Linked DNA regions of Homo sapiens. The protein of the gene in region 1 purifies or fractionates together with the protein of each later gene. This does not show direct contact. Each region holds a gene or a part of one and is shown in the gene's direction. Other genes may lie near its edges.

Region 1 (8,620 bases):
GCATAATCTTAAAATTTTAAGTTTATAGCCCTAATCTTGGTAGCAAGTCTTTAATTTTTTTCCACAGAAAAAAATGAGTAGGAATTCTAAGTATACTGATAAATACAATCAAATAGTAATTTATCTCTAGTACTAAGAAACCTTGAGTGCTTTAAAACTGGAATTTCAGGCTTTTTGCCTTTCTCTTGTCAACTGATTTGTGAATCTTTCACTTACTTCTGTCTAAACTACATGTTGTATATTTGAACTGCCATACTGCACTTTCAGCTAACTGTGTCTTTTAAATAGAATCATACACTGATTCTAGGAACATGTGCTGAATGAAGTCGGTCCCACTATTCTAGCTGTTGACAAATAGGCAAGATATAGGTAGTGAGTGTTTCTAGTATGTCTATGACACCTTATATGTTTCAAATATATATTGCTGATACATTTATTTTCAGTAGATTGAAACATTTGTCACCTTAACCATTTAAAAAATATTTGGAAGGGTTTTTGAAACAGTATTTTCTTTGACATTGCTTTAGTGATACCACAGCTTTTTACAAAACTGATTGCTAAGAGTTTATAACCAAAACTAGGTAGTGTGCCGGTCCTTTTTTTTTTGAGACAGGATCTTGCTCTGTCACCCGGGCTGGAGTACAATGGCACGATCACGGCTCACTGCAGCCTCAACCTCCTGAGCTCAAGCGATTCTCCGATTTCAGCCTCCTGAGTAGCAAGACTACAGGCGTGCACCACTACACCCAGCTTATTTATTTATTTATTTATTTATTTATTTTGTAGAGATGGGGTCTCTCCATGTTGCCCAGTCTGATCTTGAACACCTGAGCTCTAGTGATCCGCCCGTCTCTACCTCTCAAAGTACTGGGACTACAGGCGTGAGCCACTGCACCTAGCTGGTCCATTTTTCTCTTACTATTTTCAATTTTTTTTTATCTTTTTAGAGACAGGGTTTTGCCATGTTGGTCATGTTGGTCTCTAACTCCTGAGCTCAAGTGATATTCCCACCTAGGCCTCCCAAAGTGTTTGGATTATAGGCATTAGCCACCACACTGGGTTCCGGTCCATTTTTAGGATCTCTTTTTCTTCATATAAACAGTAATGTTGGCCAGGCATGGTGGCTCACACCTGTAATCCTAGCACTTTGGGAGGGCAAGGTGGGCGGATCACCTGAGGTCAGGAGTTCAAGACCAGCCTGGCCAACACGGTGAAACCCTGTATCTACTAAAAATATAAAAATTAGTGGGGCGTGATGGCATATGCCTGTAATCCCAGCTACTCCGGAGGCTGATGCAGGAGAATTGCTTGAACCTGGGAGGCGGAGGTTGCAGTGAGCCGAGATTGCGCCACTGCACTTCAGAGCCTGGGTGACAGAGGGAGACTCTGTCTCAAAAAAATAAAAAAATGCAATAAAGCAGTAGTGTCAACATTATTATCTTCACACGTGGAAGGGAAAAATAGTAATGATAAAAGAATGGAGAATGTAAATATACCTATAGTTCAATTTGTGGTACCAGCTAGTATGTGACTTTTCTTTGGTAACTGTTTTATCTTCCTAATTGTATCTCTAGTGTTGGGAAGATTCTTAATCAATAATCTTGATGATGTCCTTTAATAACCCTGGAACAGTCTTTGAGTCATAAAATTTCCTAATTATTATTCATAGGCAAATAGACTATGAAAATTAAGTTTGCATTTCTAGAATGTACCAACAGACACTGGGGGAAGGGAGTCCATACACATTCTGGATGGCTAGGGCAAACTAGGCTATGAAACAGTTGTAAATGGTTCACAAGTGAATAATTGCTGATTGAATCTTAATTTTGTCTCTTAGTGTTTTTGTTCATGTAAAAAGTTCCCTTAATCCTATTGTTGTGTTGCAAGAAGCATAACAATTTCTCTTGGGTTTTTTTTTCCCATGCCAATATTGGCAAAAGTGCAAATATACCATGAAGCCATACAATTTTTTATTGTTTTTATCATAACAGTTAAGCAAGAGAAAATATTGAGCGAAGAAATTTCATCCAAAAGCTTTAACAAAAACATTGAAGCCCTAAAATGTTAAATGATCAGATGTTATTCCCATTCATACATCAGGGGAAGTGATAAACCCTGTGGATGAATCAGCAAGCACTAGCAACTTCATGTTGTGATACCAGAATAAAGAAAATGGAGGAGAAACTGTGACTTTTGATAACATCATGAGACTAACTGATATGAAGGGTGTTCCCTGAGTTTTTATTTACTTTGAAATGTGAAGGTGTGACTAAACTTTTTGAGAGCCTTAGGTATGAGTCACCTTATTTTCTTGACAGATGTTAGTGTTTATGTTTCAGGAATGTGTTTTGGGAACTATTTTAATTTTTGTTAGAGGTAAGAGGTGTTTTTAGTGAGTTTTGATGTTAAAACCACTGAGGAGTATGGGTGTAAGCAGAGCAGGTGAACTTTAGATAGAGCAAAACCAGTGAATCCAGATGTCCCATGGGACCTTTGGGAAAATGAAGTGACATATTTGTAAACTCAAATTATTATGGTAGGGGCTTTCTCTACATGATGCTTAAGGCTGTACCAACAGTATTTCTCTTTTCCTTTTTTCTCTGGGACATAATATTTTTACATTAGTATTTCTTGCTAGTAATAGATAGGTGGAAGAAATATGAGTTCAGTGGTTAAACACATTAGGCAAACGTTCGTTTAAATATTTTTAAAAACCAACATAGGGCTTAAATGAGCCTTTAAAGTGCTGGTCTCCGCAGTGATTCCCAAGAGCATAATTATGTAGCGTTTCTCAAACTTACATGACTGGGACACTTTTTGAGGAAGGCAGATTAACTTTTCTTAGGTTTCCACGTTTGAGGAAATGCCATGTTATTCCCACAGTGTTATAAATCCTGTTTATCATGGACTAGATGAAGCCAGTCCTTAGTGTTTTGGTTTTTTTTTTTTTTTTCTTTTTTGAGACGGAGTCTTGCTCTGTTGCCCAGGCTGGAGTACAGTGGCATGATCTCGACTCACTGCAACCTCTGCCTCCCAGATTCAAGAGAGTCTCCTGCCTCAGCCTCCTGAGTAGTTGGGACTACAGGCATGTGCCACCACACCTGGCTAATTTTTGTATTTTTAGTAGAGACGGGTTTTGCCATGTTGGCTAGGCTGGTTTTGAACTCCTGACCTTGTGATCCTCCCGCCTCAGCCTCTCAAAGTGCTGGGATTACAGATGTGAGCCATCGCGCCTGGCCTCAGTTCTTAGTGTTGAATAAGAGTCACTTTTAATTATTTGACATTGGGAAAACAGAGGTGTAGGGAAACAGACTTCAGAATCAGAACTGTGAAGGTAAGTATTGGGCATGATGGAGGCTGTCTTCCTCCCCATTCCGCCCCATTTGTGTGATCTCTTAATACCTCCCTGAAGTAATTATTCTCTTTACCCACTAATTGGTGAGCTTCTGGAGCAGGCTCGAGGCTTTCAATCTCTAGGGCCTAGCACTGTGCCAAACACATAAACACTTTGTGCGTTAATTGGATAGTTATAGGACATACATTTGATGTATTACTGAAGCTTATTTTTTTCTGCATTAACATAGGGAAGATCATACCTTAACGCCACGTAGCTCACAGTTCTTTTTGTATATTTTGCTGTTGATTCTTACCACATACCATGAAATCCTAGTTCCATTTATGGGGGAGGACACTTAAATGCTTTCCTTTGGTCAAAATAAGGACTTGGACAAGTCTTTGGTACCCCATGATGCACCTGAGGAGAGCATTGCCGTCAGAGTCTGGGCTCCAGACAGGGTTTGAGCTGAGTCACTATGCAGAACAGTCCGCAGTAAGGCCTAGGTACCCCAGGGATAGATAGAGTTGAGCCTGCCTCTCTTGAAAGGAATGCTCTTCAGAGACACAGCAGTCAGGAGGCACATTCTTGTGCCTTTCTTAGGCTTTTTAAAATCCCTGATAGTAAGGTTCTTCACAATAGACAATCTTTCCTTAATTAAAAATACTTGCTCTGCTCGTTAATTTTTCTATGGCATGCATTTTCAAATTGGGTCCTTTTACTTTTTTTTTTTTTTTTAAGTAATATGTTTGTTACGTTTATAGTTTGGAGCTGAATTTCGTCGGTTTTCGCTGGAAAGATCAAAACCTGGAAAATTTGAGGAGTTTTATGGATTACTACAACATGTTCATAAGATCCCCAATGTTGACGTTTTGGTAGGCTATGCAGACATCCATGGAGACTTACTACCTATAAATAATGATGATAATTATCACAAAGCTGTTTCAACGGCCAATCCACTGCTTAGGATATTTATACAAAAGAAGGGTAAGTATCACTGTTTAGAAAAATTGTGTTAGAAATAGAAATAGTGTATTTTCCCCACTGAAAGGATACCCAGACTTTGCCACAAACTTAGTGAATAAACATTTTGTGTGAATCTTCTTATGTTAACTAACATGTGGGTTAAAACATTTGTGATATTGTTGGTTTAATTAATATCTTTATGCTTCACTAAGTGTACTTTAGAAAATTTATATTTCTAGTTACTTTTGTGTTAACCTCTTTGGTTTTATTTTTCCTTAAGTAGAAATTGGGAATTTATTGAATATTGGGAATTTATTGAATCTTCACTTTATCAAATGGATTATTCTCCACTCAGAAAAATGTGAAAAGAGTGTGACTTTGGAATCCAAAGCATTCCTGTTTTTTGGTGGCAACCAACTTTCAAAGGCTGTATTTACCAGTTAATAAATACCAGAAACAAAGCCATTTAATCTTCCTGAGTCTCAATGTCTGCACCTATAGAAAGATTATAATATTTTGTAGAATTACTATGAGGATTAAATGAGCTAAGTGCAGTGCCCTGGCTTATAGTAAGCACCCAGTAAATACTTTCTTTCTTTTACTTTTAGGATACTTTTTAAAGAAATTGTATAAAACTAGTTAATTATCTGGAAAATGAGGTGGGAAGTTACTATTGTGGAAGGATGTAAACACTGATATTAATTAGTCTTCCAAAAAAATTGAAATCACTATTTGGCAATAACTTTCTTTCTTTCTTTTTTTGTAAAGACTGGGTCTTACTATGTTGCCTGGTCTCCGGTGATCCTCCAGTCCCTGCCTCTCAAAGTGCTGGGATTATAGGCATGAGCCACCATGCTCAGCCAAGAATTTTCAAATGTATTTTGAGTCCTAAAACTTTTTTTTTTTAATCTCGTAGCCTTTGTGTGTGTATGTATGTGTGTCTGCAGATAGGCAGGGTAGGGCTTATTATGGTATGTACCATTTTTTCCTTTCTCAATTGTAAATGAAGTGGTTTGGGAAGCCAGCATGAGAGCATCAAGCCTGGTATTGGGATAAATTAAAGACTTACGGTATTTATAAGCCAACCCAGAAAGTAGCTTGAGAGCGGCCAGGCTTGGTGGCTCACGTGTGTAATCCCAGCACTTTGGGAGGTGGAGGCGGGCGGATCATCTGAGGTCAGAAGTTCATGACTAGCATGGCTAACATGGTGAAACCCCATCTCTACTAAAAATACAAAAATTAGCTGGGCATGGTGGCACATGTCTGTAATCCCAGCTATTCAGGAGGCTGAGGCAGGAGAATCAGCCAGGAGGTGGAGGTTGCAGTGAGCCGAGATCGTACCACTGCACTCCAGCCTGGGCAACAGAGCAAGACTCCTCAAAAAAATTTTTTTGAAAAGAAAGTAGCTTGAGAGAATGGGTGGGGATTATCTTTGAAGGTGAAAACTATTTCTAATCAGTTGATAAGCATTAGACCACTCCCAGGGCTCTGGAATTCCACTGATTATGTATCTTTGCTTTCCTGGGTTTGGAGGAACTAAAGTCCACCAACAAAATAAACCTCCAAGGATAACCTCTGCCTATATCACTTGACTATTTTACAAAATACTTTCACACACAAATTAATGTTCCCAAAGTTTCCTGAGATGGATCTCAAAGGTAATTAACAGGAATGCGATATAATGAGAGTATGACCTTAGGAAGATTCAGTTGGCTGTTCAGGATGAATTGGAGTGGGCAGCAGTCTTACAGTAGAGAGCCAGGAGCAGGCGGTAAAGAAGTGAGGAGACTGGCCTAGAAGTAGAGGGGAAGGGTGGGGGGAGGGGAGAAGGCAGTGGCGGGAAGGTAGGAGGGGAAATACTTGGGAGTCATTGCACTCACTGTGGCTGCTTTGCAGTGAAGGAGAGTCCAGCAGAGCATATCTTGATGGTTTGAGTCTGACAGCTGGGACAGTGTCATGAACAAGCAGAGTAGATTGATTTGGAAAAGAAAATTATGAATTTTGTCTTAGGACAAATAATCTTAACCAGTCATTCAGAAGATTAGAAATGGTAGACAAAAGTTCAGGGTAGAAATCCAAAAACTAGTTAGATTTGCAAGCTTTTTGAAAAGTGATAGTTAAAATTTTGGGAGTAGACATAAAGGCTATCTGAGATGAAGACCATGGATAGAACCTTGGAAAGCTATATATAGAGTGCTGGAAAAGGAGGAAGAATTTAAATAATTATGGTTGAATAATAGGCCTTTCTTGTTAGCAATTGTAATTTTCTTTAAAAAGTTAGTTGCTGTTTGGATGTGCATTCAAATATAGAGTGGGTTTTTAAAGTATTGCCATGTGACAGAATTTTGTTGGATTATCCCCTTTGGTAGAAAGATTATGACAGTTGAGTTATACCACCACATGTTTTGTTAATGGAATTATACTCTTGCATGATTATGGAATTAATCCTAACATCTTTTAAGGGTAGTTATCTTTTATTTCCTTTCTAAGTTTTTATTTATTGGTGGTATAATTTTTATTGAGACCTTTGATGGTTTTTATTGTTGTCATAGGAATTACAACTTAGAAATATGTTTCTATGTGCAAATGTTTTCTATTTATTAATGGTAAAATGTCCAATATAATTGATAGCCCTTAGAATTTGATTTAGAAATAGGCAATTCAACAGAAATATTTTAGATTTTAAAAATATAAATTTAATACAAATATGACTTTAGCAAAAATGAAAGTAGGTAGTCAGTTCATTCCTGCTTAAAACCCTCTGATGATTTCCCATTGCAACCAGAATAAAATCCCTTCTGATTTGGACTTCCCAACCTCATCTTCCCTCATTCTCTCACTCCCTCATCACAGTCAGCCACACTGGCTTCCTTCCTGTTCCTCAGACTTGATGAGCTTGTTTCTTTTTTTTTTTTTTTTTGAGATGGAGTCTTGCTCTGTCACCCAGGCTGGAGTGCAGTGGTGCAATCTCGGCTCACTGCAACCTCTGCTTCCCAGGTTCAAGTGATTGTCCTGCCTCAGCCTCCTGAGTAGCTGAGACTACAGGTGCATGCCACCATGCCTGGCTAATTTTTGTATTTTTAGTAGAGATGGGGTGTCACCATGTTGGCCAGGCTGGTCTCGAACTCCTGACCTCAGGTGATCCACCCGTCTTGGCCTCGAAGTGTTCTGGGATTACAGGTGTGAGCCACTGCACCCAGCCGTTAGCTTGTTTCTGTTTCTGTGCTCTTATGCTTGGTTATTCTTAAGGACACTTCACCCTCGGTTCTTCCCACGTCTGCCTCCTCCTGCTTAGCTCAGATAAGTTTGTCAGAGGAGTCTCTTCTGACTACCCTAACTAAAGCCCTCCACCTTCCCACCTTTACCACATCATCCTCTGAAGACCTGGAAATATCTTATTTAAGAATATGTTAACTTGTTTCCTGTCTGTCTGGTTTACCATCAGGTCGCAGCATCTAAATCTGGCAGACTTACTTAGTGTACTATAATGCATGCACTCTTTTTTTTGTGGAGTGGGGACGGAGTCTAGCTCTGTCCCCCAGGCTGGAGTGCAGTGGCGCGATCTCGGCTCACTGCAAGCTCCACACCATTCTCCTGCCTCAGCCTCTGAGTAGCTGGGACTACAGGAGCCCGCCAACACACCCGGCTAATTTTTTTTTTTGTATTGTTAGTAGAGACGGGATTTCACTGTGTTAGCCAGGATGGTCTCGATCTCCTGACTTCGTGATCCGCCCGTCTCGGCCTCCCAAAGTGCTGGGATTACAGGCGTGAGCCACCGCGCCCGGCCGCACTCTGTCTTTTAAGCAAAGTTGAGCAGATGCTTAACTAGAAATCTGATTTTATGTAAACCTTAATGAACATTTAATTCAAGGAACTAATATAAAGTATGACATTAAGTATAGTTACATTTTACTGCTTGATTACAGCACATTTTCTGTTTGCTTTTTGATTTCAGTTAGGCATCAGTAAGGCAGAAGTTACACTTAATATGTACTGGTGTTTTGTTTTGTTTTGTTTTAAGTCTTGCTCTGTCACCCAGGCTGGAATGCAGGGGCGTGACCTCCACTCACTGCAACCTCCGCCTCCCAGGTTCTTGTGCCTCAGCTTCCAGAGTGGCTGGGACTACAGATGCGTGCCACCACGCCCAGCTAATTTTTGTATTTTTAGTAGAGACAGGGTTTTGCCATGTTGGCCAGACTGTTCTCAAACTCCTGACCTCAAGTGATCCGCCCACCTCGGCCTCCCAAAGTGCTGGGTTTACAGGTGGGAGCCGCCGTGCCTGGCCCCAAGTGATTTATTTTATTTTATTTTATTTTATTT
Region 2 (3,550 bases), on another chromosome or scaffold:
CTGGTGGGCAGGTCCACAGGGGGGGCTGCCCTGTCCCCTAGGCCTCCGTCCCCAGGGCTGCCAGGGGCTCCCCCGCCCCCACCCCTGAGCACCATCCCCATCTCGCAGCTCCTCTGAGGAGTCAGAGAAGAACCTGAGGAACCTGGCAGAAGACGAGGCCCACGCCTGTGCCATCCTGATCAAATGAGGTGCTGCAGGGGTGGGGCCCTGGTCCTCACCACTGGTGACGTCCACCCCCTTCAGCCCGTCTGGGTACCATTTGGCCCTGGTCTTCTACCTGAGACCCTGGCAGGCCCATGTGATGGCACTCTCTGAAACCTGGCTGCCTTCCATGGAGTGCCTCAATTGGGGACTTCTGGTGCTCACACAGACACCAGTGTCATGGTTGGGTATTAGAAAAGCAGGGCCAGCCCCTCAGCCCTTGCATGTGACAGGTGGTGGTTAGGACAAGACCAGATTTGTTTTGTTTTGTTTTGTTTTGTTTTGTTTTTGAGACGGAGTCTTGCTCTGTCGCCCAGGCTGGAGTGCAGTGGCGTGATCTTGGCTCACTGCAACCTCTGCCTCCTGGGTTCATGCCATTCTCCTGCCTCAGCCTCCTGAGCAGCTGGGACTACAGGCGCCCGCCACCACACCCAGCTAATTTTTTGTGTTTTTAGTAGAGACGGGGTTTCACTGTGTTAGCCAGGATGGTCTCGATCTCCTGACCTCATGATCCACCCGCCTCGGCCTCCCTAAGTCCTGGGATTACAGGCGTGAGCCACCGCACCCGGCCAACAAGACCAGATTAAACCACTTAGAGGTGGCAGTAGTTTGGGGCTTGGGAGCTGGTTTGGCCAGCCTGTTTCATAGATGAGATCACTGAGGTGCACGAGGTCAGGTCTCATCGGTTGGGCCCAGCAAGTGGCTGACTTACCCCTGCCTGAGTCTGTGGATCCTCACCTAGATGTGGGGCCCATAGATCTGCCCAGCGCATTTGCTGCCTCATGTTCCCAGGCACCTGACTGTAGGCCATAGCCTCACCCTGCACAGGACATGGACACCTCCCAGCTCTTTGTCTGGTGCCTCTCCCTGGCCTCAGTGGGGCATATGTGGCCTGGCGCTTGGATACCCATCTGGAGACTCAGCAAGCCCATCTCAGGTGGTCACTGAAGGGCCATGCCTGCCCTGCAGAGGAGACAGTGGCAGCACCTGTGTGGTCTGGCCGCTGTGGCAATCCATCTGCCCTTTTGCCCTCCCTCACCTTCTGCTGATACCTCTTCTCTCCCTCTTCCAGGAAGGCCAGAACTATCCCGACCTCCACCTGCCCTGCTCGGAGCTGGAGTGCTGGATCCCTGGCACCTGCCTGGCCCCTTAACATAGAACCACGCCTGCTAACCTGTAGGCTCCACTGGGACCTGCTGTCCTGTCCCGCCTGACCCTGGGCCCTGGAGCAGCACCAGCCCCAGGGTGTGGGCCTGGGACCTGGGCCAGAACTGAGCCCTCCTGCAGGCATTTGGCTGCCCTGGGGGCCCACTGCCTAGGGAAGAGGACAGGTGGGGCCCAGCACCTGTGCCACCTCCCCCCCTCCACACACCATCCTTCCCCCTCACTTTGCAGAGTATTTTTCCTTTTTTTTTTTTTTCTTAAAGACGGAGTCTTGCTCTGTCGCCCAGGCTGGAGTGCAGTGGCCCCATCTCTGCTCACTGCAAGCCCCGCCTTCTGGGTTCCCGCCATTCTTCTGCCTCAGCCTCCCAAGTAGCTGGGACTACAGGCGCCCACCACCACGCCCAGCTAATTTTTTCTGTATTTTTAGTAGAGATGGGGTTTCACCATGTTAGCCAGGATGGTCTCGATCTCCTGACCTCGTGATCCACCCACCTCAGCCTCCCAAAGTGCTGGGATTACAGGCGTGAGCCACCATGCCCAGCCCTGCAAAGAGTATTTTTCTAGCGCCTGGGCTGGACAGTTGTTTCTAAAACTAAACTATTTTGGTACCTGCTTCTGGGCCAGTCCCCAGCCTGTCATGAGTGTGTGTGTGCGGGCATGGATGTGACTGGGAGCTCTGCTGGGCACCCACATCTGGGGCCTAGTCAGGTGTGTGTGTCCGGCGGGGGGGGGGGGCAGGGGGGGGGGTCAAGATGAGTTTCCCTGTAGATTGTACCTTGGGGTTTTTTTCTGTCGTTTTGTTAAAATTAGCGCCATTTTAATATTAAAAATACTGATTTTTAATATTGAAAATAAAAGCATTTAATATCTCTTAAAGGGCATCCACATCTGCTTTATCCCTAGCGGAAGAGTGAGGGGGCTTCACACGTGCACTCACACTGTGGAGAGAGTTGGATTTCCCAGACCCCTGAGGGCACCTGTCAGGGTCATCCCCATTGGTGCTGCTTGAGGCTACTGGGGACTGTGGCACTGGACGTGGCTGGAGCAGGTGGTGTCACCTGAGTACATTCTTTGCTAGCAGACAGTGGATGAGGCCCCTTCCTCTTCCTCACCAAGCCTGGGGCTGTGCCAGCCTGTCTTAGGCCAGGGCCTTGCAGAAGGCGCTCCAGGCGTGGAAGCAGCGGGTAAAGGCGTGCTGCTCATTGCCCTTGCGGACCAGGCGCAGCCGGCGCGGCCGCTCATGTTCCTTGGACCGCATGTGCTGGATATATACCTGGCAAGGGGACAGCGAGCCTTGGGTGATGACCCTGCCCTGCCCACAGGCCCACCTCGGCCCTCCCTCCACCCAGATTACCTGGCAGGCCTTCAGGCTCAGCTTGATCTCCACCTGGCTAGTCTGGGTCCCCACCCACATGTAGACCTGTGGGGGCAGCAGGGGAGATACGGTTGCATGGGTGCCTGGGAACAGCCCCTTGCTCCTGGCCCGAGAATTCCCATTTGTAAGTAAGTCTATGGGCGCCTCCTTGGATGGGCAGGGCTAGTGGCAACATCACACCTCTTGGCCATTGTCTAGCAACATGATGTCATCATCTGCCAGGTCATCTTGGCAAAAGTCGGAGCATTTCTCAGTCACTGCAAAGTAGCCCTTCTCGTTGGAGCACCTGGGAATCAAGGGTCAAGGTGAGGCCAGAGGTCATAAGCAGCAGTGCCAGGACTGAGGGGAGGGTCAGGGCCCTGGCCTCACCGGAAGAGACGTGTGTGTTTCATGTACTCGGCATCGTCATCATAGGGCTTCTGTGCCCCAATGCCCACCCAGAAGAAGTTCTCAGGCTCCTCACCTTCGTTGATAACCTGCGGGAAAGGCCAGTCCAGCCCAGGGCCCCTGCCTGCCCTGGCTCCTCTGTGTGTGCCCGCCTGCCCGCCCGCCTCCTGACCTGCTTGCTGTAGGAGGTGTCAAACATGGTGTTCAGGATGTCTTCTGCCAACTTGGCTTCGTCAGGGTCTGATGCCCGGCCCACCCAGGCATACACGATGCCCTGGTTGTCCTCACTCTCAAAGGGAACCTGGGGAGTGTGCAGGGGTGGGGGTGTTCGCAGCTGACTCAGCCCCCAAACACCCCACCCCTTGGTCCACGGAGTCCTGGCTCACACCCACAACCCCACCTTGAGGATGAAGCAGAACTCGG
Region 3 (7,870 bases), on another chromosome or scaffold:
TTGAGAAGGAGTCTTGCTCTGTTGCCCAGGCTGGAGTCCAGTGGTGTGATCTGGGCTCACTGCAACCTCTGCCTCCCAGATTCAAGTGATTCTCCTGCCTCAGCCTCCTGAGTAGCTGGGATTACAGGTGTCCGTCACCACATCCAGCTAATTTTTGTATTTTAGTAGAGACGGGGTTTCACCATGTTCCCCAGGCTGATCTGGAACTCCTGGGCTCAAGTGATCTGCCCGCCTTGGCCTCCCAAAGTGCTGGAATTACAGGTGTGAGCCACTGTGCCCAGCCCCACCCCTTGCTTTTAATACCCATCCCCTTCATTAAAGATGCCCTATATCTATGACTTCCCGGCTCTCAGAAGCTGAGAAATTGATTTGTGAGCCATGCTCCTGCTTCTCAAATCCATGGCCATGGAATAAAACCTGCACTGCTTGATGCTCACTTTCAGTTTCGCATCTTGGCTTCATGACATAGAACAGGGAAAAATCTCATCTTCACAGGACCAGCTTTGTCATTAACACTATTATGAAGATACTTATACAAGTGTTTTTGTGGATATATGTTTTCATTTCCCTGAGGCAACTGCCTGGGAGTGAAATTACACGGCGTTTAACATTAAAAGAAACTACAAAAGAATTTTCTAATGTGGTTATACCAATTTATATTCCTATTATTAGCATATGAGAGTTCCAACGGCTCCATATCTCCACTAATATATAGTATCATTGATGTTTTTAAGTTAAGGCATTCTAGTGGGTATTCAGTGTTTTCTTATTGTGAATTTAATGTGCATTGGCCACCGGGTATACATGTTACCAATATTTTTTCCCAGTCTGTGGTTTATCTTTTGTTGTTTTCACTGCCTTTCCATAGGCAGCAGCTTGTAATTTTGTTGAAATTCACTTTTGAAATTCACTTTGTCTTTTTTTTATGATCTGTGTTTTTGGTGTCCCAAGAAAACTTTGCCAACCGCAAAGCTATAGTCTTCTATGTTTTCTTTTCTTTTCTTTTTTTTTTTTTTCTGAGACGGAGTCTCGCTCTGTCGCCCAGGCTGGAGTGCAGTGGCGCAATCTTGGCTCACTGCAAGTTACGCCTCCTGGATTCATGCCATTCTCCTGCCTCAGTCTCCTGAGTAGCTGGGCCTACAGGTGTCTGCCACCATGCCCAGCTAATTTTTTGTATTTTTAGTAGAGACAGGGTTTCACCGTGTTAGCCAGGATGGTCTCAATCTCCTGACCTCATGATCCGCCTGCCTCAGCCTCCCAAAGTGCTGGGATTACAGGTGTGAGCCACTGCACCCGGCCCTATGTTTTCTTTTTGAAGCTTTATAGTTTCCACTTTTCCATTTAGTATTAGGAGAAATTTTGAATTAATTTTTTGCTTATGGTGTAAGGTAGGGGCAAGGGCAACTTTCTGTCTTACATTCTTGATCCAGTTGTTCCAATAACATTTGTTGAAAAGAATTTTCTTTCTTCATTGAATTGCATTGGTATCATGCTGTATTTCTAAAATTTTAAATTTAATTCCTCAGTTGCACTAGCCACATTTCACGTACCCAAGAGCTACATGTGGCTTCTGGCTACTGTATCAGCCAGCACAAATATAAAATATTCCCAAGTTTTATGGGACAGCACATAGCTCTAGATCTTAGGGAATAGTGCCTAATAGATATCTTCAATTGTGTGACAGGTAACCTAAACCAAATAACACAGTAAGAGCAGATATAAGGAAGGTAAAAATCAGTCACTGCCTATATGAGGTACCTAGAGTAGTCAAAAGTCATAGAGACAAAGAGTAGAATGGCAGTTGCCAGAAGTGGGGGCTAGAGAGTTATTGTTTAAATGGGTACAGAGCTTCAGTTTTGTGATAGTGGCAAAACCGTGTGAATATATTTAATGCTAAAGAACTATACACTGAAAATGTTTAAATGGTAAATTTAGTGTTATGTATATTTTACCAATATTTTAAGAAGTTTTTTAAAATGGCCATTCCTGCGCTGGGCATGTGGCTCATGCCTGTAATTGCAGCAACTCAGAGGCTCAGGCAGGAAGAGTGCTTGACACCAAGATTTCCAGACCAGGCTGGCAACACAGTGAGACCCTGTCTATAATTTTTTTTTAATTAACTGGGTGTGGTGGTATGCATCTATAGCTCTAGTTACTTGGGAGGCTGAGGGCAAAGTATTGCTTGAGCACTGGAGTTTGAGGCAGCAGTGAGCTATTATGGTGCCACTGCACTCCAACCTGGGTGACAGGGCAAGACCCCATCTCAAAAAAAAAAAAAAAAAAGAAAAAAAAAAGGCTTTTTTCCCCAGCTGGTATTCACTGCAAGTCAGGAAACAATCATTGTTACTGATAATGACTGACTTGATTCTCTCTGGTGTATCTGAGGGATATCTAACATCTCTTTTTATTTACAGAGGAGTTATTAGAGCCCAGAGGCTGACTTAATTTAATGTGTCTACCCTAGAGTATTTCCAGTGGACTTCAGCTGATAAGTTGAAGTTATCTTCAGCTGATAAGAGAAAAACAATTTGAAAGTTATTCTCTTGTAATGTGTTATCCATACATGCATGTAACACTGATGATTTTCTTTATTAGGTTATGGTAACATAACAAACTAGCAGCAGGAGCAGTCATGGTTTTGTAATAAAAGTTATCTGAAAAAGTCTGTTACTGGTGGAGGGTGTCCAGGTTCTTGGCGTTTTGGACAAAAAATTGGACAAAACACATAAACAAAGCAAGGAAACAATGAAACAACAAAAGCAGAGATTTACTGAAAATGAAAGTACACTCCACAGTGGGGAGCGGGCCTGAGCATAGGGGCTCAAGGGCCCTGTTACAGAATTTCTGAAGGTTTAAATACCCTCTAGAGGATTCCACTGGTTACTTGGTGTACACCCTATGTAAATGAAGAGAATGAAGTAAAGTTACAAACTCATTTACTCAGCATACACCCTATGGAGAGGATCTTTCCTGTTATAGCTAAAGTGTGAATCAGCCTTATGTTCCCTGCCTCCAGACCCTATTTTCCTGCCTCAAATCTCTAATACTTGATTTTGATGATTTAACTGTTGATCCCAATGCAAATATAAAAGACTTTGTAAAGCATAGACTATACTATATATTAATTCAAGGAATGTCAGGGCATGTACTGATGTTGAATTCTGAGAATCATGTGCTTTTGTACAGAACAAAGTCTGTTTGTTGAAATATTTTGAGTTAAAATACTCCCTAAAACTCCTTAATAAAGGGAATTACATAATCTGTTAATTGATTTGTGGAACGGCAGTGAAAGAGGCTGTATTAGACGACTTGAAAACACTCATATTTGGAGCTTAACGAAAATACTCCTGCTCTCCAGAGATGAAATGTTAGTGAGAGCAGCAAATAATTTATTTTTATATGCTGGATTTGCGTATTTGAGACCATCTATTAATACTGTTCTTTAGGACCTCAACCTAGTCGTCTAAGACATCCTTATTAAACGAGACCAATAGATATCATTTAATATTGAAAATATTGTTAATGCCCTTCAAAATCTTTCGAAGGAATAAACATTAAAAACTAGAAATTCTTTGTAAAATTTTGCGGTTTAAAATAATACTCGGTTTCAAATTAGTGGGTGCCTCATTTATCATAAATTATAAAAGAGAATCTAACAGTTATTGGCTACATTCTAGGCACGGGGTAACGCTTTACTATTCTTCTAACCAAAAACATACATGTATCTAAGTATCCCATGTAAGGTATCATTGAACCACACAAAACCCTATGAAATACTGGCAGGGGGCGGTGGCTCACGCCTGTAATCCCAGCACATTGAGAGGCCGAGGCAGGAGGATAATTTGAGCCCTCAGGAGTTCAAGACCAGCCTGGGCAACAGTCTCTTCACCATCAAATCCAGGAGAATTAATTTCTACTGTTAGAGCAGTCAACTAAAGGACAGCTCGCGATATTACACAAACTACTACTCCCAACATGCAAAGCGGTTTCTTTCCCTCTGTCCCCGCCCGGCCGTCCGAGAGCCCCAGCAGGCCTCGGGGCGCGAAAGGCAACCTGGGAGCAGTAGTTCTCCCGGGCGCCTAGCGGGATCGCCAGCGCGGCAGTGGGGGCTTCCGCGGCTGCAAGCCAGCGGGTCCTGTGAGGGCGAGCGGAGGCGGAGAAAGGGCGCGGGAGTGAGAGAGGGTGAGTCAGCCACTGTCTATGCAATAAAGGGAGGCCTCACCGCGGGATAGGGCTGAATTCAGAAGTGCGGCCCGTGCCGCAGTCTGTTCCAGGACGCGGCTTGTCTTAGCGTCAGCGAGGGAAGGTTGAGGAGGAGCCAGAGCCTGGTCCTGCAGCCTTTCTCGCCGTCAGCGCCCGTCGCCATCTCCACCATGCAGTCCCGGGAAGACGTCCCGCGCTCTCGCCGCCTCGCCAGTCCCCGTGGTGGGAGGCGGCCCAAGAGGATTTCCAAGCCCTCGGTTTCGGCCTTTTTCACGGGTCCAGAGGAGTTAAAGGACACGGCCCATTCTGCAGCCCTGCTGGCACAGCTCAAGTCCTTCTACGACGCGCGGCTGCTGTGTGATGTGACCATCGAGGTGGTGACGCCTGGCAGCGGGCCTGGCACGGGTCGCCTCTTTTCCTGCAATCGCAACGTGCTAGCAGCTGCGTGTCCCTACTTCAAGAGCATGTTCACAGGTGGCATGTACGAGAGCCAGCAGGCCAGCGTGACCATGCACGATGTGGACGCCGAGTCCTTCGAGGTGTTGGTCGACTACTGCTACACGGGTCGTGTGTCTCTCAGTGAGGCCAATGTGCAGCGCCTGTACGCGGCCTCCGACATGCTACAGCTGGAATATGTGCGGGAAGCCTGTGCCTCCTTCTTAGCCCGACGTCTTGACCTGACCAACTGCACCGCCATCCTCAAGTTTGCAGACGCCTTCGACCATCACAAGCTTCGATCTCAGGCCCAGTCCTACATAGCTCACAACTTCAAGCAGCTCAGCCGAATGGGTTCAATTCGGGAGGAGACTCTAGCAGATCTAACCCTGGCCCAGCTGCTGGCTGTCCTACGCCTGGATAGTCTGGACATAGAGAGTGAGCGGACTGTATGCCATGTAGCTGTGCAGTGGCTGGAGGCTGCTGCCAAAGAGCGGGGTCCCAGTGCTGCAGAAGTCTTCAAGTGCGTGCGCTGGATGCACTTCACTGAAGAAGATCAGGACTACTTAGAAGGGCTGCTGACCAAGCCCATCGTGAAGAAGTACTGCCTGGACGTTATTGAAGGGGCCCTGCAGATGCGCTATGGTGACCTGTTGTACAAGTCTCTGGTGCCAGTGCCAAACAGCAGCAGCAGCAGTAGCAGCAGCAACTCTCTTGTATCTGCAGCAGAAAATCCACCCCAGAGACTGGGTATGTGTGCCAAGGAGATGGTGATCTTCTTTGGACATCCTAGAGATCCCTTTCTCTGCTATGACCCTTACTCGGGGGACATTTACACAATGCCATCCCCTTTGACCAGCTTTGCTCACACTAAGACTGTCACCTCCTCAGCTGTCTGTGTGTCCCCAGACCATGACATCTATCTAGCTGCTCAGCCCAGGAAAGACCTCTGGGTGTATAAACCAGCTCAGAATAGTTGGCAGCAACTTGCAGATCGCTTGCTGTGTCGTGAGGGCATGGATGTGGCATATCTCAATGGCTACATCTACATTTTGGGGGGACGAGACCCTATTACTGGAGTTAAGTTGAAGGAAGTGGAATGCTACAGTGTTCAGAGAAACCAGTGGGCATTGGTGGCTCCTGTCCCTCATTCCTTCTATTCCTTTGAACTCATAGTGGTTCAGAACTATCTTTATGCTGTCAACAGTAAGCGCATGCTTTGCTATGATCCTAGCCACAATATGTGGCTGAACTGTGCTTCTCTTAAACGTAGTGACTTTCAGGAAGCATGTGTCTTCAATGATGAAATCTATTGTATCTGTGACATCCCAGTCATGAAGGTCTACAACCCAGCTAGGGGAGAATGGAGGCGGATTAGTAATATTCCTTTGGATTCAGAGACCCACAACTACCAGATTGTCAATCATGACCAAAAGTTGCTTCTCATCACTTCTACAACCCCACAATGGAAAAAGAACCGAGTGACAGTGTATGAGTATGATACTAGGGAAGATCAGTGGATTAATATAGGTACCATGTTAGGCCTTTTGCAGTTTGACTCTGGCTTTATTTGCCTTTGTGCTCGTGTTTATCCTTCCTGCCTTGAACCTGGTCAGAGTTTTATTACTGAGGAAGATGATGCACGGAGTGAGTCTAGTACTGAATGGGACTTAGATGGATTCAGTGAGCTGGACTCTGAGTCAGGAAGTTCAAGTTCTTTTTCAGATGATGAAGTCTGGGTGCAAGTAGCACCTCAGCGAAATGCACAGGATCAGCAGGGTTCTTTGTAAATAGTATTTTGAGACACTAAGATGTTTCTACTGCTACGGAATGTATTTTAAACACATATCGTTTCTTTTTCTTGGAAAAAAAGTTGATTAGGACCACAGATTTGGTTTAGAAAGGGTAATATTTTGAAATACTACAAGGTTTAGACAGTCCATGAAATCGACCTGTTTAATAATTTACCATCCTGAAAGTCCAGAATTAAAATATGGAAGCAAGAACTATATAATTGATTAGGATGCTTGGTAGGTTTTTTTCATTGTTCAAATATTCATTGCACAGTGGATTGTTTTGATTAGTTAGTATGCTTTTTTTTTAATTAATTCAGTCTTCTGTTAATTTTTAAGTTTTGGTTAGTGCCACAAGGAATTTAACTTTTTGATTTGTATAATAGAAAACTGAACTAGGAATTGTTAGCGGGGTTTTGAAGGATGTGTACTTTCCTTCAAAATAAAGTGGTAGATTTTCAAAATTTTACACTAGTCAGTTCTTTATATTCTAAGTTAAATGTAGTTTGTAAAATTATTTTGGTTTTCTTCTACAAAGGAAAAAATTGGATTTATATATATAAGGTTACTGCATAATGATTTCATTTTGATAATGTGCAGAATGGCCTCATAAGCTCACAGAAAGTAAAAAAAAAAAAAAAAAAAAAGAAAAAATCAGGATTCCACTGTTTTAAAAGAAATCTCAGTTTTTATTTTGGAATATAAAATGTGTATTTGGTATATGTGACCAATTTTCTATCCCAAAAAACACCCATTCTTAGTAATGTCATGAATTAAACACCCTTCTAAACCAAAAAAAAAAAAAAAAACGGTAACTTGCTTTTTATGTTTGTGTTTTTAATTTATGCCCAATACATGCTTTACTGACTCAGAGGAACAATTCCTGGACATATAATTGGGTAATGCAAATTTTTATCCACTGGTCATGATTTGTCTTAAAATGTTTACTTGCCTCCCTAAAATATTTTGGCTGTGTAGGTTTGGTGTTTGTCCTAGAGGATTCTTCAACAGAAAGTGATTTATTCTTTACTGTTTTGTGAGGTAATATGGTTTAGAACATATGTATAAGCTAAAAACAGTATTTTACTCAGATCAGTAGTTATCGTGTCTATCAGCTATAAAAAAAATCAACTGCCAGCCAAGAACTTTAAAACTTTAAGCTGTGTATTATAGAACCGTTTTGTGTAGCATTGGAATATTGTCCATTTTGTAAGTCATTGTGAATGTTCTTAATTATCAGCTTGAAGGTATTTTTGTATTAAAAGTTGACATTGAAGAACCTAAGTGGATGATGGGATTTGGGGCCAGTAGTGAAAGTATGTTTCCTCTAAAATATTTCCCTAAACAGTGGTATACATGGTTATTTTATTATGAGATTTGTATATGTTCTGTGTTTCTCTGTGAACAATGTTTCAGTCTCTCTGTCACCATATGTAAGG

What was found. The genes of interacting proteins can lie anywhere in the genome.
Region 2: the proteins of PARD6B (region 1) and LLGL1 purify together in Homo sapiens (affinity purification with mass spectrometry; 7 studies listed by BioGRID and IntAct, with this or other methods). This does not show direct contact.
Region 3: the proteins of PARD6B (region 1) and KBTBD7 purify together in Homo sapiens (affinity purification with mass spectrometry; 4 studies listed by BioGRID and IntAct, with this or other methods). This does not show direct contact.

The regions. Positions count from the first base shown.
Region 1 is NC_000020.11:50,733,759-50,742,378, forward strand, and holds part of PARD6B (partitioning defective 6 homolog beta), read left to right. Parts: intron 1-4,098; coding exon 4,099-4,321; intron 4,322-8,620. UniProt on the Homo sapiens protein: Adapter protein involved in asymmetrical cell division and cell polarization processes. Probably involved in formation of epithelial tight junctions.
Region 2 is NC_000017.11:18,242,635-18,246,184, forward strand, and holds the end of LLGL1 (lethal(2) giant larvae protein homolog 1), read left to right. Parts: intron 1-108; coding exon 109-187; 3' UTR 188-188; intron 189-1,273; coding exon of another isoform or gene 1,274-1,415; 3' UTR 1,416-2,241; downstream 2,242-3,550. Other genes in the region: FLII (protein flightless-1 homolog), read right to left, coding at 2,504-2,785, 2,921-3,026, 3,110-3,216, 3,300-3,428, 3,528-3,550. UniProt on the Homo sapiens protein: Cortical cytoskeleton protein found in a complex involved in maintaining cell polarity and epithelial integrity. Involved in the regulation of mitotic spindle orientation, proliferation, differentiation and tissue organization of neuroepithelial cells.
Region 3 is NC_000013.11:41,190,761-41,198,630, reverse strand, and holds the start of KBTBD7 (kelch repeat and BTB domain-containing protein 7), read left to right. Parts: upstream 1-4,061; 5' UTR 4,062-4,373; coding exon 4,374-6,428; 3' UTR 6,429-7,870. UniProt on the Homo sapiens protein: As part of the CUL3(KBTBD6/7) E3 ubiquitin ligase complex functions as a substrate adapter for the RAC1 guanine exchange factor (GEF) TIAM1, mediating its 'Lys-48' ubiquitination and proteasomal degradation.